Linked DNA regions of Homo sapiens: region 2 is linked to region 1. Evidence: fine-mapped expression QTL. A gene starts in region 1. The other region holds a variant in brackets. All regions are shown on one strand. Distances are between the middles of the regions.

Region 1 (16,956 bases):
TATTCTACACTCTACAGCATTTCAGTGCCCACTGAGATAGCAACTTCACTGACCATGCCAACTTCTCATTGTTGTCAATCCCTCATGTCTCATTTCCTATTATACCCAGCATGCACCACTTACCAGGGCCAATTATAAAAATCGTTTTCTTACCCACAGCTACAACTTCCTTGCTTACCTCTTCATTCATCATAAGCATCTAGAAAATGCAGCTTGTTTAAATCCAACCCTACCTACTCTGTGCATACATTCAAGTAGCTGAATGTGATCATATTAACTGGTTTTATCTTACGTTTTTGAAATGTAACTTCTCAGCACTCTTACTAATCAATCTGTTCTGCAAATCTCCTAAAAGATTATTCCCAATCTCTTTTTCTTTCTCAGACTCTCAAATTTCTTTCTGTCTTCTCTTTCTACAAACTAAACGGATAACCTGGCTTTTCCATTAACATTATCTTAAGAAAAAAAAGAAATTCAGAAAGAAGTTTTCTCTGTTTCACTAGTCAAATATACCAAAACAGCTACATCAGTATATGAGGTAGTATTCTTTTCAACAGTGGTTGAATTGTACTACTCATCTAAGATCAATCTCCATCTGTATATTAAAATCCATCCACCTATCTCCTTAAAGATTTCAAGCTTGTAATTTTCCTTCTTTTTCTCTTTCTATCAATTTTTCCATTTTTTTCATCTCTACTTGTTCACTTATGTTCACTTCCAAAGATGATATAATATCTCCTATATTAAAACAAGCAGAAGCCATCTTTTGTTCACCGTAACACCATACACATGATCACTCCATTTCTCTAATTTTCTTAACAACAAATGGGTTCAAAAATTTCTCTATGATCTTCCCAAACCTATTCTAATTAGGCTTTTTCCTTCACTATTTCTTTTTTTTCTTTTTTTATTTTTATTCTTTCTTTTTTTTTATTGAGACAGAGTCTAGCTCTGTTGCCCAGGCTGGAGTGCAGTGGCGCGATCTCGGCTCACTGCAAGCTCCGCCTCCCAGGTTCATGCCATTCCCCTGCCTCAGCCTCCAGAGTAACTGGGACTACAGGCGCCTGCCACCCCGCCCGGCTAATTTTTTGTATTTTTAGTAGAGACGGGGTTTCACCGTGTTAGCCAGGATGGTCTCGATCTCCTGACCTCGTGATCTGTCCCCCTCGGCCTCCCAAAGTGCTGAGATTACAGGCGTGAGCCACCACGCCTGGCCCTTCTTTCACTATTTCTAAAAAACACTCCTGCTAAAGTCAACATTACCTCAGTATAAACACATCCAATGGCTAGTTCTCAGGATTCATCTTACACATCGTATAAACAGAATTTTAAATAACTGATTATTCACTTTTCGTGACAAACTTTCTTCTCCAAAATGCTTTGTTCCCTAGGACACCATTCTCTTGGTTTTCCTTTTGCTTCACTCACAACCCAATCCTCCCTCAGATTAACTGATTCCTCTTTAAATTAATTTAAGATGTTGTTGTGTCCTAGAGTTCAATTCTTGGTCTTCTTAAAAAAAAAACAAAAAACTTATCCTGGAATGAACTAAATTGAATAGTACCCAGAGAATGGCCAGAATGGGAATTAATTTCTTATAGATTCGTGCCTTGAGATAACAGCCATACATTGATAATGTCCAAAAATTGTTATCTCCATACCAGCGCTTGATCTACAGGACCACGTATCTGAATGGATTCTTGGCATATTCACTTTGATATATTATAGGATTTTCTAGCTTAACACATCAAAAAATGGGTACCTTTTCCCAATGTGTTTCTTCATCTTAACAAATGTACACTCCATACGTACAGTTTCTCAGCTAAAAACTTGGAATCACCTTTGACAATTCTTGCTGCTCTCACATGAATTAAACTTGTCAGAAAATATTGTTCACCTTGGAAAATATGGAAACACAGTTATTAAATGTGGAAGTATTATTGATTTAGAAGATCTTAAAAGAAATATTGAGTTAACATGACAGAAGGATTCATTCTCACTCTGTTCTTTCTGTTCTCACATTTCATGCCTATTTCAGAGGACACTTTTAAAGTGGGGTTTAAATGGGAAAGTACCCAGAGAATGGCAAGAATGACAATTAATTCCGAATTATTTACAAAAAAGAAATAGGGAAAAGTGAAGATGAAAGCCAGAGGTATCAAAGACTTAAAGGAAACAAAAATAAACTAAAAGCAGAAGGAAAATAAATGGCCACAAGAAGGAGACAGAGGATGAATATAGGATGGAATTTATTTTGAAATGTATTAATATATTTACCCCATCAGGTGAATATACCTGACCAGCATAATAAAATATCCCAATTAAAATGAAGCACTATGAAGACAGACAAATTGATTCAAATCCTGGAGCAACACTTACTTGCCTTGTGGCTTTCGGCAAGTTATTGAACCTCTGTGCTTTATTTTTCTTAATAGTAAATCTGTCATAAATTTAATTCCTGCCACAAATATAACTGATAAAAGCATATAGAAAGAGCAATAAATGGCAGCTGTCATCGTAGAAGCAAGTTTGGATTATTCTGGATCATATTAAAAATGGAAGAAACCTGGGCAATTGTCCAAGCACTGACAGTGAAGCTTAAACAAACCAATCCTCATGAGCACAACGAGGGTCTGCTTGAGCCTGTCCAGAAGAACTCGATTATATCACTTTTCTTCATTCATAACACTTTCCATGATATACAATTATCTTGATCTTTGCTTTCTATGTTTCTTTACTATCTGTGCTGACCACCTTCTACTATAATATAAGCTAAATGCTTGTATAATTCATTAACCATTGGTCCCCAGAAAATAGAATTGTGCCTTGGACATCTGCAGTGATCAGTAAACATATGTTCAAATAAATGATTAATTAATAGTCCCTGCCATGAAGTTTTATAGTAATTTTAATTGGAAAGTACAATAGTAGATATACTTAACATTCTGTGAATCCTTAATTCAAATATACTAGATCATTTCACTTTCTCTTTGATTCAGACAAGAGACAGGGAAATACTGGGTAGAAGAGGGTTGTTCCTACCACACACCGGGGCCTGTCGTGGGGTCGGGGGAGTGGGGAGGGATAGCATTAGGAGATACACCTAATGTAAATGACAAGTTAATGGGTGCAGCATACCAACATGGCACATGTATACATATGTAACAAACCTGCACATTGTGCACATGTACCCTAGAACTTGAAATGTTATATATATATATTTATAAAGAAGAGAGTGGTTCCCTGGCACGTGCCCCACCCTTAAGCTGGGAGACTGGCAGCTCCAAATGGGGACAGACATTCCTGTTTTCATGCCCCAAAAAGTTGCCTTTTGGCCTGCCATGCCCCCTATTCTGTACCCATATAAACCCTGAACTCCAGGCTCCAGATCAGATGAGCAGACGAGGAGATGAGAAGACAAGCAGATGAAAGGTGGAATGACATGACAGAGAAGGAGAGAAGAGGAGGAACTTCTGAACGCCAAGAGGAGTTTGGCTGGGAGTGGTCAGAGAGTAGTTTGGCCGTTGGATGGCCAAACTCCAGAGGAAGATCACCTTCCCATTTCATCCACCTTCCAGCTCCCCATTCATCCCACTAGGAGCCACTTCCACAACTCAGTAAAACCCCCACATTCATCCTTTGAGTTCATGTGTGACCCGTTTCTTCTGGGATGCTGGACAAGAGCTTGGAATACAGAAAGCTGTCACACTGGCCCTCTGCCCTTGAGAAAAGGCCGGGGAGGCACTGAGCTGGTTAACACTTATGTTGTCTGCAGATGGCAGAGCTAAAAGAACTTTGTAACACTGGGGTTCCAGGCACCCACCCCTAGACACTACAGTGGGGCCACAGCCCAAAGTGCTCACCCCAACTCCTGCACCTGCCCGTCTGCATGCTCTCCCTCCCACAAGGGATTTGAGCTCATGACAGTCAAACAGACAGACATGCCCGTCACATACCCTGCTAAGAGGGCCAGACCTCTCCCATTTCACCTTAATCACACTATTTCCCTCAATCACACTGGGTGGATTAGATGAGGTTAGATGGTACTGCTTATTTTTTATTTTTTATTTCTTTTTGAGATGGTCTGGCTCTGTCACCCAGGCTGGACTGCAATGGCACAATTTTGGCTCATTGCAACCTCTGCCTCCTGGGCTCAAGTGAACCTTCCACCTCAGCCTCCCAAGTAGCTGGGACTACAGGCGCACACCACCACTCCCGGCTAAGTTTTGTATTTTTTTGGTAGAGGAAGGGTTTCAGCATGTTGCTCAGGCTGGTCTCAAACTCCTGAGCTCAAGCAGTCTTCCTACCTTGGCCTCCCAACGTGTTGGGATTACAGGAGTGAGCTAGCATGCCTGACGCCTGGCATTGCTTTTTACAAGAGGTACATGTATTCGAACTTCCTGACCTTTATTCAGTTGTTTGCCCTGCCTGAAAAACATTGCCTTCTCCTTTCTCCTCTTAGTCAATATTTACATTTTCTTCAAATATTAATGTAAATCTTAATCCAATTCATTGTTATTTATTGTTTAACATTTTACTTACATATGTTCTGTATACATATGCCTGATCAACTTTGCGGTATGACTGCAGACTGACACATTTTTTCCTTCAGTTTCCCTACTGTTTGTAACAAATGCTCTGCTGTAATTTTGGTCGGATAGTTATTAATTGTTTAGCTTATTAACTTTAAAAAAAAGCTCATTTCACTTTGAAATCCACATGTTTAAGCTTTCTGTAAATGAAGGAGAAAATATTAATTATACTTTTCTATGACAGGAAATCCTACCATTACCAAATTAAACAGTATTTAGTATTTGTGGAAAGCCTGGTAAGTCAAAGGCAAACAGCTTTAGTTTAAAAGTGGTTTATGTTAAAAAGTCTCAGAATAGCTATCACCAGTTGCAAAATACTCACTTCCTTTTGTTTCTGTCTGGAATCATTATAACACCCACAGTGGTCAACATCTTGTTGTCTTTCTCTTTTACACATATTTTACATGTGTAAAATATATACAGGACATCCCTGTATATTGATCAGTCTTAACCACAATGTTACGTATTCCACTAATTTTCATTCTTACTGCATGTACTCCTTGTCATTGTTATTAGTGTCTTTAACTCATTATTCAGCCTTAAACATAGATAATGGAGTCTATGAAAGACTTCATAATGTAGTCGAAAGAATTTAGAAACTGGGTAAATAGTACTACTTTTTACAAGAAGTGTAATGATTAAAAAGTTCCTCAAATTGCCGGGTGCGGTGGCTCACGCCTGTAATCCTAGCACTTGGGGAGGCCGAGGCGGGCGGATCACGAGGTCAGGAGATCGAGATCATCCTGGCTAACACGGTGAAACCCCGTCTCTATTAAAAATACAAAAAATTAGCCGGCCGTGGTGGCGGGCGCCTGTAGTCCCAACTACTTGGGAGGCTGTGGCAGGAGAATGGGGTGAACCCGGGAGGCGGAGCTTGCAGTGAGCCGAGATCGCGCCACTGCACTCCAGCCTGGGCGACAGAGCGAGACTCCGTCTCAAAAAAAAAAAAAAAAAAAACATTACCCAACTTGTAAATTTTTTTAAAGAAGTTCACATAGCTAAAATCTAACACTCTGCTTCATAAAGACTAACCTCATGATTTTTCTCCATGAATACTCAGCACCAATTTCAGTGTCTGAAACATAATTAACATTCATTAAATATTTCCTTTAAAACAGACAATTTAGAGTGTTCTTAATCTGTAAAATATTGAATGAATAAAAGGTTTTATTTTAAATTCAATTTCATCAGGAAATTTGGAATAAAGAATTTTTTTAGGCCAGGCGCGGTAGCTAAAGCCTGTAATCCCAGCACTTTGGGAGGCCGAGGCGGGTGGATCACGAGGTCAGGAGATCAAGACCATCCTGACTAACACGGTGAAACCGCGTCTCTACTAAAAATACAAAAAAAATTAGCCAGGCGTGGTGGTGGGCGCCTGTACTCCCAGCTACTCGGGAGGCTGAGGCAGGAGAACGGCGTGAACCCAGGAGGCGGAGCTTGCAGTGAGCCAAGATGGCGCCACTGCACTCCAGCCTGGACGACAGAGCAAGACTCAGTCTCAAAAAAAAAAAAAAAAGATTTTGTTTAGCTGTATATAGTTTCCTTAGTGAAGAAAAGGAGAAGAGAATAAGATATTCAAGCAAGGTTAAAATATTGAAGCAGAAATAAAATAAGCTAATAACGGGACTTGGAGGGTGATTAAAAGGTAACTAGCAAAGACTCTGGATTTGGGAAAAGGAAAAGAAGCATTTGTGATATCTATCTCTCTTTCCTGCAGTTCTCTGCTTAATTTTTGCTGAGTAACTCAACTTACATTTATAGAATGTGGGGAGGGAGCAAAATTAGAACTCAATGTTATCAAGGGCTAGTTCCTTTGGCCCTGAGAGTCTCTGTCTTCGCTCAGCTTGCTTCTAACACCACAAAGTCATGTGAGGGGGGATACACAGAAAGGCAAACGTATATTTTGTGGAACACAGATAAGATATAAGACTCTCAGACTGTGGCTGGAATGATCAAAGATCCAAAAAGCAAGGTTAAATTACAATGAGAAAGAGGAATGAAGCAATGGAAAGTCCAGAGCCTGAGATATAGGAAAGGAATATCTTCAAAGGCGGAGTGTTAACCTACTTCAGGCATTAAATATGCAGTTCTAAGCATTAAAGGATCAAGAACTAATCCTGGCACATTCCTGGTGGTTTACAAAAATACATGGGACATGTTTTATAATGAAATCAGCTGCTCAAGTCCTAGAGAATGTGGAAACCTCAACAAAGCAATCTAATTGTTCTCTTTAATACCATCTTAAAGTTTTTGTTAATAAACAAAAAATGTTTACAATAATTTAAAAATTGTCTCAATGTCCTTGGATCTTACCTTTACATATCTGATTTAATGTAACAAATTAAGTTTTCATATGTACCTGTTTGGTACCTAAGAGAACAGAGTAAAGCTTTATTGGAAAAGTGTCATTTGTACTATAACCTCCACACATTTTCTTTTCTCTCTGTTACTTTGTCACAGTTATTTATTCGATTATTTTTTAGTGTTTCTGTATATTTTAGGTAACAAAACACTGAAGGAAAGCAGTGACCAAAAGAACGTGAAAGACAGGGGTTACTGTGACAGAATAGCCTCAGGACTTGCTGATGAGTAGATGTAGAAAGGAAGGAAGAGAGGGAGGATCAAACCCCATTCCAACCCCAATCTTCCAGAAAAGCCTGAGGATAAATGATGGGAGAGCGAAGAATCCCTTTTAGCTGAAACAGAAGTTATGAGAACAGAAGCAGTGGTAGATGAATGGTAAGTGACTGAATTTACCCAGCTTATGATTGGGAACCCCTGAATATTTTAACTGAGATAAGAAACACAGCAACAAAAATGGTGTTGGGATTTAATGTTTTTTAAAAATTTTTAGTCTTTTCTTAAAATTTGGCATTTATTTCAAATGTGTTTTTTTTTAATTAAGAATTAGTTTTGGTAAAAATATTTGAATCATACTAAGTTTGGCTTTCCAAAATCAGGGAATGTCTTTTATACGTGTTATGCTTATTCTTCACCTCATTCTCAAAATAATTTGAAGAGTATAGAGAAAGAAATTTAGAATGAAAGATAATTTTAAGTGAATTGACAAGAAATTCAGAGTGAAGGAGATAGCAGGGGAGAAAAAATCTACGGGCTATGCCAAAGGGCATGTTAATAAACAAAATATCTGCTACTGCAGCCCACATAATCACTATATTGAAAAGTCTAACACTCTGCTAAGTAAAGAAAAATAGAATTCAAATTATTTATAAGGTAAATGCCTACTACTTAAAGCTTTGCTAGTCATGGTGATTTAACAAAAATAAAAATCTGCCATAAAACTATGTAAGAGTTACCCTATGGCAAAATAGACAACATCCTCCCCAATATTCCTATAATAAATGCATCAGCTAGCTTTGTATGGCTGTTCTTACAACTACTTTCAGTGCAAGCTAAAATAATGTAAAAGCCCATTTCATAAAGTTAAGTGTGTGCAATACATATTATATTGTGATGAAAAGGTGCTAGGAACCATTCAGTCTCAAATATTCATCTAAGCACAGCTGTACTTGAAATGAAGTGATTTCATCAAATCAAAATTCTTCCATTCCAGGAAACTCACTTTAAAGCACAAACACTACTAAAGAACAATGCAGCAAGTCACCAACTCTGTATTATTTTACTTGATTTGATAGTTTTCCTTCAATACCTAAATCTAAGCAATATCAGGCCTGCCTCATGTGGATCCTTCAAATAAAAAAAAGTATGAAATATGCAAGAAGTTGTGTAAATTCTAGGTCATAATCAGGAATGATCTCTTCCAACACAAGACTATGAAACAGCTAATTTAGCCCCTATCAGATCCAATTATATTACACTTGCTTCTCACAATGAGATAAACTATATATCTGCTGGTGAGCTATATCCATGAATTTTCAGCAGAAATCTCTCATTTGAGCAATGTAATTTAGACTAAGCTAGGGCTAAGATAAAGCATGAACTTTTGTTCTTAGAAAGGATGCACATGATGGAATGTCCCTTTATTTAGTGTTGAAGATAAAAAAAAAGCAGGAAGCAAATACCTTATCTACTCCTTTACCACAAGTTATTATTATTTTTGTGTTTTTGTGTTCAAGGTCCATGTATCTCTGAGCAGCTATGAAGAAGCTTCCTGGAAAACAATAAGCAAAGGAAAACAAATGTGTCCCATCTCACATGGTTCTACCCTACTAAAGACAGGAAGATCATAAACTGACAGATACTGAAATTGTAAAGTTGGAAACTACATTTTGCAAAGTCATTGAACTCTGAGCTCAGTTGCAGTACTCGGGAAGCCATGCAGGATGAAGATGGATACATCACCTTAAATATTAAAACTCGGAAACCAGCTCTCATCTCCGGTAAGAATGCTCAGAGCCAATAATTTGGAAATTAATTTAAAAAATGAGTTGATTCAATTCTTTCTTTTTCTACTATTGATAATATATATAGTTTAATTTCTTTTTCTTGAATGATGTTAATGCTCTAAAGCATTTGAGTAGTGTTTTCATAAGCTCATACAGACCTATTTAGATTACAAACATCCAATATATGTGCAGGGAAAATTGCATTAAGATTCTGAGCGTTTAATACTCGAGGGCATAGAAGTCAAGGGGATAACGGAAAAGAGTGGAAATTTCATTTTCTATATGTGAGCAAATGAGTGTGATTCTTCATTTGCTGTTTATTAAAGCAATTATTTATGGCATGGGTGAGCATAAAACAAAACAAAACAAAACAAAACAAAACAAAAAATACAAACACATCAGGCCTTAACAGCAAGTAATATTTCAGCTTGGAGAGGTAAAGTGCATTGGAGATGAGAATGGATGTATGGTATAGGGGTGGGCCATGCCTATTGTTGATGATCATGAGGAGAACACAGGTGAGATCTGCCAGCAAAGCTCTTTCTATTACTTGGAGGACCCTGAGAAGGCAGGGGCAGGGGCAGGGGTGAGCCTTCCCCATAGCTAACCCATACTGCCTGCTCCTTGATGTCTTTATTATATGCCTACAGTTGGCTCTGCATCCTCCTCCTGGTGGCGTGTGATGGCTTTGATTCTGCTGATCCTGTGCGTGGGGATGGTTGTCGGGCTGGTGGCTCTGGGGATTTGGTGTAAGTGTTGACTCTGCCAGAAATTTGACTGGAGGAAGGTAATACTGAAGGGTCATGGCATATCCCACTAAGCTTCTCAATGGTCGCTATTTGTCTGTTTATCACTTCTACAGTTGTCCTACAGATAGTTGCCAAGAGAATCTCAATAAAGGAGAACACTGACTGTTTCCTTGTGATTAAAATAAGATTTTAAGATTTTAACTAATGAAAAGTTATTTTTAAGAATGTACTACTGGCCTTTAAGACCCTCCTCAGTGTGGATCCAAACTATTTTTAAAAACTTTTTCATCCCTTTTCCTATCTTGCATTCCTAAGAACCAGCCAAACTGGAGTTTTTCAATTTCATATATAAATTCCATGTTCCCTTGTCTGAAATTTTTCTCATTCTATTCTCTCTACCTAAAATTTTCTGTTTCTCATTTTGTTTACTAAGTTACTGTGCATTTCTTCTTTCTGTAATTCTCATGGCCCTCCAATAGCACATTGAAGTCTGTGTAGTTGTTGCTTGTTTGTGTATTTGTTGATTTTTTTAAAAGATGTTAGAATCTAACATTTATCCTCTTGTATTTCTTTATTATTTACCTGAATATCACAAGTACTTTAAGCATAACAAGAAATCAGTATGTATTTTTAAATGAATGAATAGTTTGGCATCACAGAAAGAACAGAAAATAAGAGGTCATTCACCTCTATAACTCAGCTGAGAAGCTTGTATTCAAGCAAATGAATACAGGCTCTGGGGATGTTATCGATGTTGGGATTTTTTATTTGTGATTGTCTCCTTCAAACAGTTCACTTATTAACCCTCAGGCGTCAGTTCTGTGTATTTCTTAATTTGTTCTTTATAGCCCCTCCACACTTTTCAACATTCATTTAATCATGTGTATCTAGTAAACTCCTCATATATTGGCAAAGTTAAGGAAATGAAAATTCAATGACAGACCTTTGCATCATTTCTATGGTTCTAATTACAAATTATTATTATTTACTTTTTAAACCTAGCTGTCATGCAGCGCAATTACCTACAAGGTGAGAATGAAAATCGCACAGGAACTCTGCAACAATTAGCAAAGCGCTTCTGTCAATATGTGGTAAAACAATCAGAACTAAAGGGCACTTTCAGTAAGTATTGTTTTTTTAACCTCTTCATCTCTCCAACCCCTGGAGCATTTCTCTGATGGCAACTGAAGGGAGTTTGAGATCTGCAGAAAACATTGAATGTGAAGAAAATGTAAGCCCAATTTAGAAAAAATACACCATTCCTGTGCTTGGTTTCTCCAGAAGGTCATAAATGCAGCCCCTGTGACACAAACTGGAGATATTATGGAGATAGCTGCTATGGGTTCTTCAGGCACAACTTAACATGGGAAGAGAGTAAGCAGTACTGCACTGACATGAATGCTACTCTCCTGAAGATTGACAACCGGAACATTGTGGTAAGAAGATTCTTATGTCAAATATTTTGGAGGCAAGGAAGAGAAACCTCAAATGTAACACTTGACCTTTTTTTGTTTTTTACATTTTTCTTAACATCTTTCAGTTTGTACTAATCTAAGACCCTTGTGAAACCTAGTAAGAATTACAGAACCCAGATATTCAATCCACTCATAATATTCTACAACACTGATAGAGTTGATCAGTCAAATTGACTTGTCCCTTCCTGACAGCTCAGGTACATAGTGGGTCACACATGAAGAGTCAGCCCAGTGATGTTCATATTTATTTGTGTCCTCTGTTGTTCTAACTTGCTGTGCTGTCCACTTACTGTTTCTGTGGACTCAGACGCATACGGAAGATATCCAGTTACATAAATTAGCTTTTCTTTCCACTCCAGCAAAATAAGATAGTTTTCTAAAATCTCAGCTCTATTATATAGAGATTAATTCGAGACATATATGCATATCCTTAATTTGTATTAGTCTAGGCAGATGCCAGGTTGAAGATTTATAACTAAAAGTAGTCATGCAACTTTTTCAGAAAAAGAAATTGTATAGTTGGATTTCAGGTAGAATTTATCTGTCAGTTCCTATTGGGAAGTATATAATATTGATATATTTTAAAGAAAATATTAGGATATAACAGAAAGGTTCCCGGTGGCTCAAGCTTTAAGAAATAAACAGTCACATGTGACTTTCACACAATATCTCCTGTGGAATGCCATTTTGAGTCTCACATATCTGTCAAGAAGCTCAAGTCATTTTTTATTTACCAAGAATGCATTATCACTTGTTATTCTGGGAGGTCTCAGAATATATAAGCATTTGGCCTTCACATAATTTTGTTACCCATAGATTGATTGATTCACTTATTCCTTCATTAATTCAGCAACTATGTGCTGAAACTATTCCAGAATTTGGACCTATGCAGTTAGTAAGACAGAAAGAAAAATGCTTAACCTCGACAAGAGTATATTCTAGTTAAAGCAACAGCCAAGAAACAAAGCAAATGATATAGTATATAGTTTAGTAGATAGTGATAATTGCTAATTAGAAGAAAGTAAATAGGGAAAGGTAGATGTACGTTATTTATAAATCCTTTTGAGAAAGACATCATAAATGCCTTTATCCAATTAACTACAACAAGTTAATACTTCCATATGTAAGATTTTATAGGCAAGCTGAGCAATAAAACCAAAGCAGGTAGGGCTTTAACTCTAAGGAATATACAGCTCATCAACAATGTATTTCTTTGTATTTCCTTTCTCTGTTTACATTTATTCCTTTGAATCATATTTGGTATTCTATTTGGGAGTATAATCCTCAACTGGTTGAAGATCTAAATACATGTTATAAACACAAAAGAAGATTAGAATATCAGCTATTTTGTGTACAATTTTACCTGTGTCCTATAAGTTTTTTTTAAGTTCTCAGACAAGTCAAATTGGTACAATTTCAAACATCAAATGTAATCCATTAATACTAATATAGACATGTAATCCAACATTTTTTGTCCAACGTCTTATCATGAAGCTTTGTCTATCATACCAAGAGCTGTGGAGGGATTCTGACCATTGTGTTTATTTATGTTTACAATAGGAGTACATCAAAGCCAGGACTCATTTAATTCGTTGGGTCGGATTATCTCGCCAGAAGTCGAATGAGGTCTGGAAGTGGGAGGATGGCTCGGTTATCTCAGAAAATATGTAAGTCACTGGACACTTAGAATAGGAGGGAGTACTGGAAACTCTTATTCTTGAGATTCCCTCTTCTCTCAGTCCAAGTCACTACTATGGGTTATAGAAGCAGCAGCTGGGTCACTTACCTGCTAATTCAAACAAGACAGCGCTGGTCATAAGACAATTCTTTCCCCTCTCTCCCATTACTTTGCTCTTTATCTAAGCCACAATCCACCTTTATCTCTGATATTATTCCCATTCATTTTTACATTCAACCTTACCATGGAACACTGTGTGCATGTATGTGTATGTGTGAGTGTGTGTGTGTGTGTGCGCGCATGCACATGTGTGTGTGTTTTTGTGTTTTGCTTGTTCTGATTATCTTCACATATTTTTAAAACAAAATTTCATATCATTATTTTACAGTTGAAAGTTGTTATCTTGAGAGTCCTTTTGAGTTTTCAATATTGTTTTGCCTATTCCTCTATTCTGGGAGTCTCCAAGAATTCGATACATTGTATTTCACAAGATAATTCCAATGTCCATTAACGAAGCTTTGTCCTTCTACAAACAATCCAGGCAAAGGGACTGATTGCATTGAGTGGAGTTGCTTCCTATATGGCTTTCCAATCTGCAGTCTCAACATCTTTTGTTCATCCTGTATATCAAAACTGCAGTCTCTCTTCAATTAAAATTTAAACTGATAACCAAAACTTATATAATCTGATTATTACTCAAATTATGAATTAAATTTTTAAACAAATATTTATTAAGTATTTACTATAGATAGGATCTTAGGATACTACAACTACAAGCAAGCCTCTTCACAGACCTTGGGCTTTATCTCCTATCTCCTATTGCTTGCTGCCTCATTTACAATATTGCAGGCAACTTAGTGTTCTTTACATTCTTCCAACAAATCAAACTCGTTTTGTTACCTTAAGGCTTTTGTCTTGCTATTTTCTTCTAGAATGCTCTGCCTCCACAACTCCATGACCATCTCTCCACTGAGACTCAAGTCTCTATTTAAACATCACTTCTTCAGTGAACCTAACTCTACCCAAACTAAATTAGCCTCCCTTAAACCCATATCCATACAGTCCACCACTGTTTTGTTTCTTTGTAACTCTTACCACTGTCTCAATTTTTCTTGTCTATTTTTTGTGGGCTTCTTACCGGTATCGCCCCACTTAAATGAAAGTTCCCCAACAAGAAAGACATTAGCTTTCTTGTCTTTCTTTATCAGTGTATCCTCAGCACATAGAACAACTTTGTCACATAGTTCTGCAGGTATTCTCCAAATAAACCAATAAGTATATATTCCTTGTCATCTCATTATAAGCAGTTTAGAAAGAAAGAAATATAACTTAACAGACAATTACAATACAGCCTGCTGTGTTAGATGATTTATCTTGCAACATAAATCCTGATTTCAAAACTACTGAATCAACTCACTTTTCCATGAGCGTATTCCCATCTAGTGCAGCTACTTGTCCTGTAGGGCTCTTCCATCTCCTGTCAGTTCATCTGAGTCCTGACCTTCCATCAATACCGAACTAAAGTCTGATCTTGTAGATAATGCGTTTTCCCATTATTTTGGAGCCATCTCCATCACTTCTTCAGGGCTCCTATTGTACCTACTGTTCCCTTGCTCCTAATTTTATGCTAAATGAAATTGATATTGGGCTTTTTAAATATGCATATCTTGTACTGCCAAGCAGGGTGGAACTTTCTCAACAATGAGAATCGTTTTTTTTTTTGTTTTTTTTTCCTATTTTCCTCAGTCTCTATTTGGTGCATCAAACTACTATACGCAGAGTCTGATTACTGATTGTTTGCTCAGTTTTCAAAGGAATTTATTCTAACTTTCCCTTCACAGGTTTGAGTTTTTGGAAGATGGAAAAGGAAATATGAATTGTGCTTATTTTCATAATGGGAAAATGCACCCTACCTTCTGTGAGAACAAACATTATTTAATGTGTGAGAGGAAGGCTGGCATGACCAAGGTGGACCAACTACCTTAATGCAAAGAGGTGGACAGGATAACACAGATAAGGGCTTTATTGTACAATAAAAGATATGTATGAATGCATCAGTAGCTGAAAATTGCTTATTTCTCCCTTTCTTCTCACTGGAGTTATTTTTAATATTATCTTTCCTATCAGAATTACCTAGTCCCTTCTTTGAATATACAGAAGCCATCACGTGAGTTTATCATTTGCTTCCCAATTGTTCTATTTTCCTTTAATTTTCTTTCTTCTTGTCCTTCATTTCTAATTACCTGAACATGGTATGATTTACTGCATCTTCAGATATACACATATAACATCAAAATCAGGCCAATATAGGTTAGGGCTTAATTAATATAAGTTGTGCAAAATATCTATGTTTGAAATCTGTCCAAAATATCTAAGTTTGAAAGGCGGTGTAAGATAGTAAAAAGAATATTAAACTTAGAATCAGCAAAATAATTTAGATGTCAATTAACTAAATTACAATCATGAACAAGTTTCATAACCTCTTTAACTTCCCTTTTCTCATATTTAAAATAGGAATAATAACAACCATCTTTTATATCTCACAGTTCTACAACCTAAAATAGAACTTTAGAGTGTTAACTGTACCAGAAACTCCATGAAAGCGAACACTATGACTTCCCCATTCACTATTCTCTTACCAGCACCAACCCGAAACCCTGGCTCACAAAACAGAGAGATATTTGTTTCTCTTTGTATAAGATAGTTCATGAGAAAAATAGCTCAATCATTAAAACATTACGCAAATAGAATTACTATTCCAAGTCTACCTCTGGTTAGATTCAACAGTAGTAATTTTCTGCGCTAGAGAAGGAAAAGAAAGTTTGCAAGAAAACTCACTGGGTTTGTAAAATGAATAAATGCTTCTTAAGTTTCAGAGGCTACTAGACAGAAGGACAAGTAAAAATGCTTTAATTAGTATTTTCCTAACAGTTCTGTGCTTTATTTTTGCTGAGTAACTCAGGAAGTATTTACAGAATATGTGGAAAGGCACCCTTTTACAGGATAATAGGAAAAAATTGCATTTCTTTCCCACAGCTTCCCTTTTTTAACTAGTGGCTACCATTTACGAACATGATTCTCAAACATCTCAACGGAGGTTTTGGTTAAAACATAGAGAAACCAAATAGGAAACTCAAATGCTGATGTTACTCAGTGGGAAGACTGAGGAGACACAGAGACCTGGGTTTTTACCAGCATCACGACACAATTCTCATACAAGTAGTCTTTAATACAGTTAGAGAAATATCACTACTTTAGAACTTACTCTCTATCTGGCTTTGGATAAGTAATGTTCTCACCTTGAAATGGGTTTAATATTATTACCTTGCTCATAAGTTAATTGTGAAGCTCATTTAATATGATTATATAAAGTATCGATCAGAATACCAAGTATGTAATACATACTCAATAAATATGTGTTACTCTTAAAGCTTTGTGCGCTAACACTGAAAGACACTTGAATCTTTATCTTTTTTCTAGCCTATCAATAATTAAGCAGATTTGGAGGGCTTAGGAAAAATAATAGAAATACCTCAAATTTTACTTGTTACTTCAAATGTCTGGAGATCTTGGATTTGGGTGATGGTATCAGTATGTTTTTTATTTTGAATTGTCTATTTAGAGAAACTAAATAGGAACCAATAATTCAGAAAACTGTACAAAATTAGCAACTCAACTTTGTTTCATCTCCCTAAAATGGAAAAACATATGTGTATACATCCCTATAGCACACATAAACTTAGAAGAATAATATCTTAGTGCATGGCAACAATACAATTAAAAATGTAGGCCAATCACTGTGATTCTTTTTCTGGTATTCATATCTAAAGTATCTTATACATAAAATCAAAATAGCACAAACGTTAGTAGCACAGATCAGACCACCTCATTTCAAATACTAAATCTTCTACATGTCATCTAAGTGAACTCCAGCAAAATTTGACTTCTGTCTTCTTCAATTTAAAACTAACTTACAGGCATGCCTCGGAAATATTGTGGGTTCAGTTCCAGACCACCACAATAAAGCAATTATTGCAATAAAGTGAGTCACATTAATTATTTGCTTTCCCAATTCGTGTAAAAGTTATGTTTGAG
Region 2 (11,696 bases), 38 kb after region 1:
CTGAGACGCTTTACAGCCCTAGATCCTAAAAGGTCAAAAGGCCGTCTTATTCTCAATATACATTTTATTACCCAATCTGCTCCCGACATTAAATAAAACTCCAAAAATTAAATTCCAGTCCTCAAACCCCACAACAGGACTTAATTAACCTCGCCTTCAAAGTGTACAATAATAAAGTAGAGGCAGCAAAGTAGCAACATATTTCTGAGTTGCAATTCCTTGCCTCCACTGTGAGACAAACCCCAGCCACATCTCCAGCACGCAAGAACTTCCAAACGCCTAAACCACAGTGGCCAGGCATTCCTCCAGGCCTGCCTCCCCCAGGAGCTTGCTAAAAGTGCCAGAAATCTGGCCACCTGGCCAGAGAATGCCCGCAGCCCAAGATTCCTCCTAAGCCATGTCCCATCTGTGCAAGACCCCACTGGAAATCAGACTGTCCATCTCACCGGCAGCCACTCCCATAGCCCCTGGAACTCTGCCCCAAGGCTCTCTGACTGACTCCTTCCCAGATCTTCTCGGCTTAACAACTGAAGACTGTCACTGCCCAATCACCTCAGAAGCCTACAGGACCATCACAGACACTCTAGGTAACTCTCACAGTGGAGGGTAAGCCCGTCCCCTTCTTAATCAATACGGAGGCTACCCACTCCACATTACCTTCTTTTCAAAGGCCTGTTTCCCTTGCCTTCATAACTGTTGTAAGTACTGATGGCCAGGCTTCTAAACCTCTTAAAACTCCCCAACTCTTGTGCCAACTTAGACAATACTCTTTTAAGCACTCCTTTTTAGTTATCCCCACCTGCCTAGTTCCCTTATTAGGCTGAGACACTTTAACTAAATTATCTGCTTCCCTAACTATTCCTAGGCTACAGCCACACCTCATTGCCACCTTTTCCCCCAGGTCAAAGCCTCCTTCACATCCTCCCCTTGTATCTCCCCACCTTAACCCACAAGTATAGGACACCTCTACTGCCTCCTTAGCGACTGATCCTGCACCCCTTACCATCCCATTAAAACCTAATCACCTTACCCCGCTCAATGCCAATATCCTATCCCACAGCACGCTTTAAAAGGATTACAGCCTATTATCACTCTCCTGCTACAGCATGGCCTTTTAAAGCCTATAAACTCCCCTTACAATTCCCCCATTTTACCTGTCCTAAAACCAGACAAGGCTTACAGGTTAGTTCAGGATCTGTGCCTTATCAACCAAATTGTTTTGCCTAACCACCCCATGGTGCCAAATCCATATACTCTCCTATCCTCAATATCTCCCTCCACAACCCATTATTCTGTTCTGGGTCTCAAACATGCTTTCTTTACTATTCCTTTGCACCCGTCATCCCAGCCTCTCTTCACTTTCACTTGGACTGACCCTGACACCCATCAGACTCAGCAAATTACCTAGGCTGTATTGCCGCAAGGCTTCACAGACAGCCCCCATTACTTCAGTCAAGCCCAAATTTCTTCCTCATCTCTTACCTATCTCAGCATAATTCTCATAAAAACACATGTGCTCTCCCTGCTGATCATGTCCGGCTAATTTCCCAAACCCCAATCCCTTCTACAAAACAACAACTCCTTTCCTTCCTAGGCATGGTTAGGGCAGTCAGAATTCTTACACAAGAGCTGGGACCGCACCCTGTAGCCTTTCTGTCCAAACAACTTGACCTTACCATTTTAGCCTAGCCCTCATGTCTGCATGCAGTGGCTGCCGCTGCTTTAATACTTTTAGAGGCCCAAAAAATCACAAACTATGCCCAACTCATTCTCTACGGTTCTCATAATTTCCAAAATCTATTTTCTTTCTCCCACCTGACGCATACACTTTCTGCTCCCTGGCTCCTTCAGCTACACTCCCTTTTTGTTAAGTCTCTGACAATTACCATTGTTCCTGGCCCAGACTTCAATCCAGCCTCCCACAGTATTCTGGATACCACACCTGACCCCTATGACTGTATCTCTCTGATTCACCTGACATTCACCCCTTTTCCTCATATTTCCTTCTTTCGTGTTCCTCACCCTGAACACACTTAGTTTATTCATAGTAGTTCCACCAGGCCTAATCGCCACACACCAGCAAAGGCAGGCTATGCTATAGTACAAGTCACCAGCCCACCTCTTAGAACCTCTCATTTCCTTTCCATCGTGGAAATCTATCCTCAAGGAAATAACTTCTGTTCCATCTACTATTCTACTCCTCCTCATAGATTATTCAGGCCCCCTCCTTTCCCTACACATCAAGCTCGAGGATTTGCCCCCACCCAGGACTGGCAACTCTTAACTCCCTCTCAGAGGGGATAGATAATCTTTGCTGGCAGGGGACCCTCCAATACTTTCACCCTGATGAAGTTCTATTCTTTACTTTTATACTCAATCTTATTCTCATTCCCATTCTTATGCCACCCTCTACCTCTCCCCAGCTATCTCCACCACACTATAAACATTACTCATTCTCTCCTAGCTGTTTCTAATCCCTCCTTAGCGAACAAACTCTAGCTTTGCATTTCCCTTTCTTCCAATGCCTACACAGCTGTCCCCACCTTACATGCAGACTAGGCAACATCTCCTGTCTCCTACACCTCCAAACTTCCTTTAACAGCCCTCACCTTTACCCTCCTGATGAACTCATTTACTTTCTAGACAGGTCCAGCTAGACCTCCCCAGACATTTCACGTCAGCAAGCTGCCGCCCTCCTCCACACTTACTTAAAAAACCTTTCTCCTTGTATCAACTCTACTCCCCCCGTATTTACCTCTCACAACACAAACTACTATTCCTGTGGCTGCTCCTTTATGTATCTCTCAGCAAAGACCCACTGGAATTCCCCTGGGTAACCTTTCACTTTGATGTTCCTTTACTCTTCATCTCCAAAGCCCTCTTGTTGTTTACTTATACCCAGCCCCATAAATAACAGTGAAAGGTAGCTCATAGACACTCAACATTTTCTCATACACCATGAAAATCGAACCTCCCCCTCTACGCAGTTACCCCACCAGTCCCCATTACAACCTCTGATGGCTGCTGCCCTAGCTGGATCCCCAGGAGTCTGGGTACAAGACACCCCTTTCAGCACTCCTTCTCATCTTTTTACTTTGCTTCTCCAGTTTTGCCTCGCACAAGGTCTCTTCTTCCTCTGTGGATCCTCTACCTCCATGTGTCTACCTGCTAATTGGACAGGTACATGCACACTAGTTTTCCTTACTCCTAAAATTCAATTTGCAAATAGGACCGAAGAGCTCCCTGTTCCCCTCATGACACCGACACGACAAAAAAGAGTTATTCCACTAATTCCCTTGCTTATCAGTTTAAGACTTTCTGCCTCCACTATTGCTCTCGGTACTGGAATAGGAGGCATTTCAACCTCTGTCACGACCTTCCATAGCCTCTCTAGTGTCTTCTCTGCTAGCATCACAGACATATCACAAACTTTATCAGTCCTCCAGGCCCAAGTTGACTCTTTAGCTGCAGTTGTCCTCCAAAACCGCTGAGGCCTTGACTTAGTCACTGCTGAAAAAGGAGGACTCTGTATATTCTTAAATGAAGAGTGTTGTTTCTACCTAAATCAATCTGGCCTGGTGTATGACAACATAAAAAACTCAAGGATAGAGCCCAAAAACTTGCCAACCAAGTAAGTAATTATGCTGAACCCCCTTGGACACTCTCTAATTAGATGTCCTAGGTCCTCCCAATTCTTAGTCCTTTAATACCTGTTTTTCTCCTTCTCTTATTCTGTTTAGTTTTTCAATTCATACAAAACCGTATCCAGGCCATCACGAATAATTCTAAATGACAAATGTTTCTTCTAGCAACTCCACAATATCACCCCTTAGCATGAAATCTTCCTTCAGCTTAATCTCTCCCACTCTAGGTTCCCACATCGCCCCTAATCCCGCTGGAAGCAGCCCTGAGAAATATCGCCCGTTATCTCTCCATACCAAGCCCCCAAAATTTTTGCCGTCCCAACACTTTACCACTATTTCATTTTTATTTTCTTATTAATATAAGGAGACAGGAATGTCAGGCCTCTGAGCCCAAGCTAAACCATCCTATCCCCTGTGACCTGCACATACACATCCAGATGGCCGGTTCCTGCCTTAACAGATGACATTCCACTACAAAAGAAGTGAAAATGGTCTGTTCCTGCCTTAACTGATGACATTATAAAATTCCTTCTCCTGGCTCATCCTGGCTCAAAAGCTCCCCCACTGAGCACCTTGTGGCCCCCACTCCTGTCCGCCAGAGAACAAGCCCCCTTTGACTGTAATTTCCCACTACCTACCCAAATCTTATAAAACAGCTCCACCCCTATCTCCCTTCGCTGACTCTCTTTTCGGACTCAGCCCACCTGCACCCAGGTGAAATAAACAGCCTTGTTGCTCACACAAAGCCTGTTTGGTGGTCTCTTCACACGGATGTGAGTGAAAGTTATAACGGAAAAAAGGGAAAGAAATGAAGACAGGTGAAGAAAAGTGCACAGGGATAAAAATTTGGAGACACACACCTTCAGAGTCACATAATTTAAAAGTTGAGAGACCACAGTGACAGTGATATACTCAGGTACCAAAAAGAAACACACACTTGGGATCCAAAAAAAAAAAAAAAAAAGAAAAAACCGGTTATACATTAAAAGGAAAATTTAAGAAGATAAAATAACAGGACAATTTACAAGATAGAGATAAGACCAAAGGAAACCATGAGGGATAGTGAAATACCCCAGGGCTAGCTACTGCCGGAAGCCATTACTACATTAGGCCTGAGAGAACATTGCTGGTAGCAATTAACTGAAGCAGCAGAAACTATAGCTGATGAAGGCTGCCTCCCTGGAGGTACACTCAGCGAGAACAACTCCATATCCATTTCCTAGTGCTGTAGGGAAGGATTCTCCCACCTTTAAATCTTTTGCCTATTCTTCCTATTAGCACAAACATACCTAGAGCTTCAGGACAATAGTGTCCAGGGATATTATACATGAGAGTCAGTCACCATCCTAGGGCACTGCAAAGGGATTAGAATGGTGAAGAGTAGATTTATTGAAATCATTTTCTGAACCATATGTAGGCCAGTTTTTATCATTTGGCTTGTCAATTGGTGTTTTGATATTTAATTCTTTTTTTTTAGGTTGTCTCATAATTTTTTATTAAATAACAGGCCTTATGTATTAAAAACAGAAATTTTAAATGATCTTCCTACCAAAAAGTTTTGTTTCTTTTTTTCTGGCAGTCACACAGAATATAAGCGGTAAACCTTGATTAATTGGAGCCCCTCAAATTTTGCCTTCTCAGTTGTTTTATACATTTTATCTAAATTTTATAATTATCTTTTTGTAGGTTTCTTTCATCTGATACAAGTTGCAATGCTATGACTAGGATTGGCTTTATTCTGGCTTTGTTCTCCAACAAACTAAAATTGGGAGGTTATATAGTGAGGAAGGAATGTAGCTATGTGCAGGCAGAAATGTAGCTGTGTGGGGAGTGTAAACCAAAAATGAAATTCTAAGGCCCCTCAACCATCTGAATGGACTCCCTCTTCAACCACAGCTCTTTGAAAATTTAACCTGAGAGATGGGTTCAGGCCATGACAGGAAGTGCGTGTCGAACACGCTTCATTATATCTCTCAGGCATTAATACTTAAGTCTCTCTCAAGTCTGCTGTCTGGAGGCTTCATTTGCATGATAAAACCTTGGTCTCTACAACCTCTTACCACAACCCAGACATTTCTTTTCTATTGATTCCAGACCTTTAGATAAACTCAACCAATTGCCAATCAGTAAATGTTTATAGTTGATTGAAGCCTCGTGTCTCCCTAAAATGTACAAAACCAATGTGTACCTGAACCACCTTGGGTGCATGTTCGCAGGGCCTCCTGAGGGCTGTGTCACGGGCATGGTCACTCATATTTGGCTCAGAATAAATCTCTTCAAATATTTTACAGAGTTTGATGCTACGTGGACAGGGGAAAAATAGAAATTAGGCAGAGGTAGGGAAAAAATCATGCTGGGTGAAGGATCTGCAGTCTCATTGCCTGGGTGTGGTGCTCTGATGAGTTTCAGTTCCTTGCCTGAAAGTCGGTTTTCTAAGCAAGAAACTCAGGAAAACAAACAAGTTTCAAGTTTTAAGACCAGACAGGGTCCATTTCTATGTTCCAAAGCAAAACAAACAAAAACAACTGTAAATATTAGTTCTATAAGATAACGGGGCCGGTTTCAGTCTCTCTTTTCTATTTATCACTTCCTCAATCATGGAGAATCTGGTCATTGATCCTTCTGGCTGCTTCATGCTGAGGACGTGTGAGGTGGAATAATGATAAGGAATGGAAATGTGGCACTATAATCAGAAGTAGTCATTGGAGCACTATGATCTGGGTACTTTTATTTCAGTTTTAGAACAACGTTTTAGGCCACATTGAACAAGGATGATAAATAATATAGATAAACCAATTTTAAAATACCAGAGAATTTGGAGTGGATCCCTTGGGGAATCCAAGAGAACAATCCTAAGCCTACCAAAAAGTATTCCTGATTCATTATATCTTATATGTGAAAAGCTGTGGGTTTAAAGAGAATAATAACTGAAAAATGCATATTCCTTTTACAGTTTCTTATCTAGGATCTTTGGCTGGGCTTTCAATATTAACTTAAGGCCATGTATAGGTTCACAAGAGCATGACTGTTTCCCCTGGAGGGATCCCACAGTGACTAGTTTTACTGAGTATGTTGAATTCATGGTTTAACACTGGCTAACTTGATAGACGAGTGGGTGGTCAGCAGCACCTTAAAAAGACTGACCTATTGTGGTTGCAGCTAGTCTTCAGCCTGATGGGATTTCCAGGTCTTCAGTATGATTCGATTCCCTGGTTTCAAACAGGGAAGAGGCAAGTCCATACAGAAATGAAGTCTGTTGGAGAGACTAGTTAATATATTCCCTAATTGTTTCATGTATGACATAGCTTCTGTTTCAGGGGAGGAAAAAATCCTCAAGCATCAGAGAGTCCAGGAAAACAGTCTCCAAGTAAACATTTTGAAAGGGGCTAAGAGCTAATCCATTTCTGGGAGCTACCAGTACCCTCAGCAGGGCAAGGGGCAAGACCTTTTCCCAGGTAAGATTTATCTCTTGGAAACTGAGGTCTCCTTGGAATATGCCAGAGGGAGCATTGATTGCCAAACTTTATTTTGTTCCATATCATTTCCAAGGTGGTATGACTACCTGCCCCGAGTCCATCCTGTTCGTCAGTGGGACCCCTGTAACCAAGGGACTTAGAGTCAAAAAAGACTTATAGTCAATTAAACATTCTAGGCCACACAAGAATAGAGGTGCCAGGGACTCATTACCATTAAAACTCAAAGCAACGAAAGAGCCAAAAACCAAAAAGTAAGGTTAATATTTCTTTCTTCTTTTTTTTTTTTTTTGAGACAGAGTTTCGCTCTTCTCTCCCAGGCTGGAGTGCAGTGGCACAATCTCTACTCACTGCAACCTCCGCCTCACTGGTTCAAGAGATTCTCCTGCCTCAGCCTCCAGAGTAGCTGGGGTTACAGGTGCCCGCCACCACGCCCAGCTAATTTTTTGTATTTTTAGTAGACATGGGGTTTCATCATGTTGGCCAGGCTGGTCTCAAACTCCTGACCTCATGTGATCCACCCGCCTCAGCCTCCCAAAGTGCAGGGATCACAGGAGTGAGCCACCACGCCCAGCCAAGTTAATATTTCTATCATTGTTCCTGGACCAAACTGAGGGTCAGACTGCTATTTCTTCCAGCCCAGTAACAAGATGCAGATGAACTGGGGAGGAAGAGTTTTTATTTCTTTAACAAGTTATAGGGAGAAGGCCTGGAAAATATTGCCAGACCAACTCAAAATTACAAAGTCTTCCAGAGCTTATTACCTTCTAAGTTATATGTCTGTGTGTAAGTGCATTCATCTAAAAACATGAGTGATTAACTTCTTGTAATCTATAACTGAGATCTGAGTTCTGAAGACCTTCCTCTGGAGGCTTAGTAAATTTACTTAATCTATATGGGTCCAGGTGCTGGGGTGATTACCCTATCTTGTCTCCTGCTAAATCATGGAGGTTTGGGAACTTCCTTGAGATCTCCAATAAACTTGTCTGTGGAAGCCTGGGAAGTTTCTTCAGACTGCCGGTAAAACTTGTTTAATCCTAATCTGGTCCTGTTAAGAATTCCTTCATTATCTTGTCATGGGTCCAAGCCCCAGGAAAGTCCTAGGCAAAACTCGTGGTGGGCTTTTGTTACAATCCAGAGTTTG[T/C]ATAAGGCCACTGGCTTTTTTACCTTTTAACATTTAACTTAACCACTCAGTCAGTACTGAAACAGTTGTTATGGAGGCCTGCATTAGTGACCTGGCCTGCCACATCATTATAAAGCCAGTCCCCCGTGGCTTACATTTGAAGCATATCTGTTGCTTCATCTGGAGTGCTCCACTTGGCATTTATAGGTGGAGTGGGACAATTCTCCTTCTCAGAGTAAATAGTTCTCACAGTGTTTTATCCAGTCCACCAAGTAGGCTGTTCTTTTGGGAATAACCTCCTGTGTGCCCGGATTATATGTACCCATCTGCAACTGTTCAATTGTGAGCCGTGGGTTCTGTATCAACCGGATCTTCCACTCTGCAGCATTTAAAACCAAAGACATTGTGCCTAAAGTAATTACTCTCACAATTTATTTTAGTAAAGGTTCAGGAAGCTAATGATACTGATTTGCAAAATAGAACAATTCCTTCACATTATACCCTCTAGTTTCAGAAGTCACTTTAATTCACTCCTTCCCCACATTGACTACCTTCCAGGAAACCACAGATCTCAGAGGTACTTTCTGGTTTCCTGGCATAATTTTCTTCTTCATGAGCAGCCTTGAGGCTAGTGATCTGAGTTCAGACAGACCCACATCTAGGCTTGGTTTGGCCTCAAAGCCTGACCCAATATTCTCCTACTTTAATTTTAGCTATTACAGATGTGAAAGGAAAATAAATCTTGGGGTCCCCAAATCACTAAGCCAAAGAGAGAAGTCAAGCTGGGAATTGTGTCAGGCAAACCTGGCTCCCATTTTATTCGATTGAATTTCACCCTGGCAATGTAAATTGATAGCTTATCTTCACAGGTATGGGACAAAGGATAGAACTTGAAGTCAACCCTCTGCTCATCTGAAACAAATGCATATCTGATTGCTTCCTCTGCCCTTTCGTTTGTATAAAAATGCAGATTCACTGATCTAGACTGAGGCATAAGTGACTATTTCTTTACCCCACTCTCACATGTAATTGTGTATTTAGTGAAAGTCTGATCAAAATCTCAAAAGAATACAACCATTTGTCTCTTATCTACCCACACCTTTTTTTTGTTTTTTTGTTTTTTTTTTTTTTGAGATGAAGTCTCACTCTGTCATCACCCAGGCTGGAATGCAGTGGCACGATTTTGGCTCACTGCAACCTCTGTCTCCCGAGTTCAAGTGATTCTCCTGCCTCAGCCTCCTGAGTAGCTGGGATTACAGCCGTGCACCACCACACCCAGCTAATTTTTGTATTTTTAGTAGAGATGGGGTTTGTCCATGTTGGTCAGGCTAGTCTCAAACTCCTGACCTCAGGTGATCTGCCCACCTTGGCCTCCCAAATTACTGGGATTACAGGCATGAGCCACCGCCCTACCCACACCTTTTTAAAATTTCTTCCTCTTTCCCCAATATCTGCCCTTTCCCCTTTAAATATTGAAGCCCTCAAAAGCATCTTTGGAGAAAGGCACAGACTTGTGTTTCAGGCACATATCCCTACCCTTGGCAAAATAAACTTTGAAATTAATTGAGACCTACCTCAGATACATTTTGGTTTATATCGATAACAAAAACCAAGGGATTGAAAATTTTGCTTTTTTAAAAATTAGTTTTTATTTCCTTATGCATCCAGTGAACCAACTTCTGAGGTGATGAATCCATATCTAAATTCCACTGGTAACTTATACTTTTAATAACTGAATGCAGCACAGCACAGATGTATCTCCATACCATGGATGACCAGGTTGCCATAGGTCAAAGATTAATCTAATAACAGGTGTACTGCAGTTTTCTTCCAAAACATAATGTTTCTCTCTCCAGCTCCCCATTTCCATGAAAGGCAAATCACAGTAGGACCAATTTATTTGCAAAATCTGTTTTAATCTTATTATAGTTTGCCTGATTATTTGCATAAACTGAAGCAAGAATTATTGTTCATATAGGCTTTTTTAAATTGGCTTTGCTGGAACTTTTCATAAGGAATCTCAGATTTGATTTTTAAAGGCCTCTCGAGCACAACCAATAATTGATCTGTGCTTGCAGATACCTGTATGAATTGGGTGAATTCCTCTTTTCTTGAGGTCCCAAAACAACTTGAGTTTTCTGGGCCTGAGAACATTCATGTTTCTCATCTATAAAATGTTAATATCTGATAGACAGCCCAGGATTTCTTGCTTCCTAGGTTTCCATTAAAATTTAGGATTACTAAGAATAAGAATTCCAGCAAATTGTATGATTCCATGTACAATGTGCCAAAGAAGATGTGTTCTTATTGATTAAAGAAATAATTTTGTTTAACTCAGAAGTTATCTAAAGGTTAATTCAAATTATAGACTTAGGTTGTTTATGAAACAGGGTAGAAAGGATCCAGTAACTAGGGGAGAGAGATATAGATTAGTCCCCTGGGTTAGAACAAGGTTTTCTTAAAATATTGATTGGATGAGAGGTTTTGATTTTGACTCTATAATCTGTTACTTTTTGAATACTTCTCAGATCTATATCTCCAAAGTGCAGCTTTCTTGTGTTTTGTTGCTGTCAGCTTGTCTCCCCTTGAAGGAACCTGAAATGAAACTATCTCCTTCAACTTTGTCAGTTCTTGTATCTTTTTTTTCCCTCTTGCCTTAACTGCTGTCATGGTCTGATGCTGAAATATTTATTTTAAAATTCTAGAGAAGCAACGTTTTCCTCCAGTATAGCTTGATTCTGTCCTCTTGGCTTTTCTTGATATGTCTACATCATTTATCAGGTTTGATTTTCAGGTTTTCGAGATGGGACTCTGATAGGAGAAGCAATCACACTGCAGGAGGTTTTTCTTTGCCTTTTGGTAACTGACCTGAGAAACAAATTTTACATTTTATCAAAATAATTTCTATGTCATTGTTATTGGGTTTTTGATTGCTTAGGAAAACTGAGATTTAAAGGAATTAAGGTTTTTACATCATTTAACTTTCTGTATTGAAACCCTTTCATAATTGGAAATGACCCACACATCTCATGAGCATCCAAAATAACTTCAAGATATTAAATTACACAAAAAGTTCACTTAGAGCATTTATGCCATTTATATTTCATTCACTTTTTTAGCAATTATCTATATTACTTATGAGAAAAGAGATATCAAAGCTATTCATTATTTCCTTGTTAACCATTTTTATAACTTGTATATATTAGATGTTCACCTAAGTAAGAAACATAAAGTTGGCTGGGCATGATTGCTTACACCTGTAATCCCAGCACTTTGGGAGGCTGAGGCAGGAGGATCATGAGGTCAGGAGATCAAGACCATCCTGGCTAACATGGTGAAACCTCTTCTCTACTAAAAAATACAAAAAATTAGCCGGGCGTGGTGGCGGGCGCCTGTGGTCCCAGCTACTCAGGAGGCTGAGGCAGGAGAATGGCGTGAACCCGGGAGGCAGAGCTT

Which allele goes with the higher level. Alleles are on the strand shown, and positions count from the first base shown. SD is a standard deviation of normalised expression in the study named.
For the expression in monocytes of the gene that starts at base 8,869 in region 1, allele C in region 2 goes with a higher level than allele T (moderate effect, 0.71 SD a copy in Quach 2016).

What was found. PIP is the estimated chance that this variant, and not a neighbour inherited with it, causes the effect.
Region 2: its variant is fine-mapped to the expression of CLEC1B in monocytes (Quach 2016, PIP 0.95).

Annotation. Positions count from the first base shown.
Region 1 is chr12:9,991,034-10,007,989 of GRCh38, reverse strand. It overlaps CLEC1B (C-type lectin domain family 1 member B), which reads left to right and starts at 8,869. Exons shown (of 6, transcript NM_016509.4): 1 at 8,869-8,953; 2 at 9,610-9,708; 3 at 10,711-10,830; 4 at 10,990-11,144; 5 at 12,744-12,850; 6 at 14,703-14,915. The coding sequence starts at 8,890. The coding sequence ends at 14,847. It also overlaps a transcript of CLEC12A not described here and a transcript of CLEC12B not described here.
Region 2 is chr12:9,955,166-9,966,861 of GRCh38, reverse strand. It overlaps LOC124902874 (a long non-coding RNA gene), which reads right to left. Exons shown (of 2, transcript XR_007063207.1): 2 at 9,865-11,108. It also overlaps a transcript of CLEC12A not described here. Among named protein-coding and RNA genes, the nearest start is that of CLEC12A-AS1, 7.7 kb to the right of the region's middle. The variant T/C (reference allele first, on the strand shown) is at 8,262.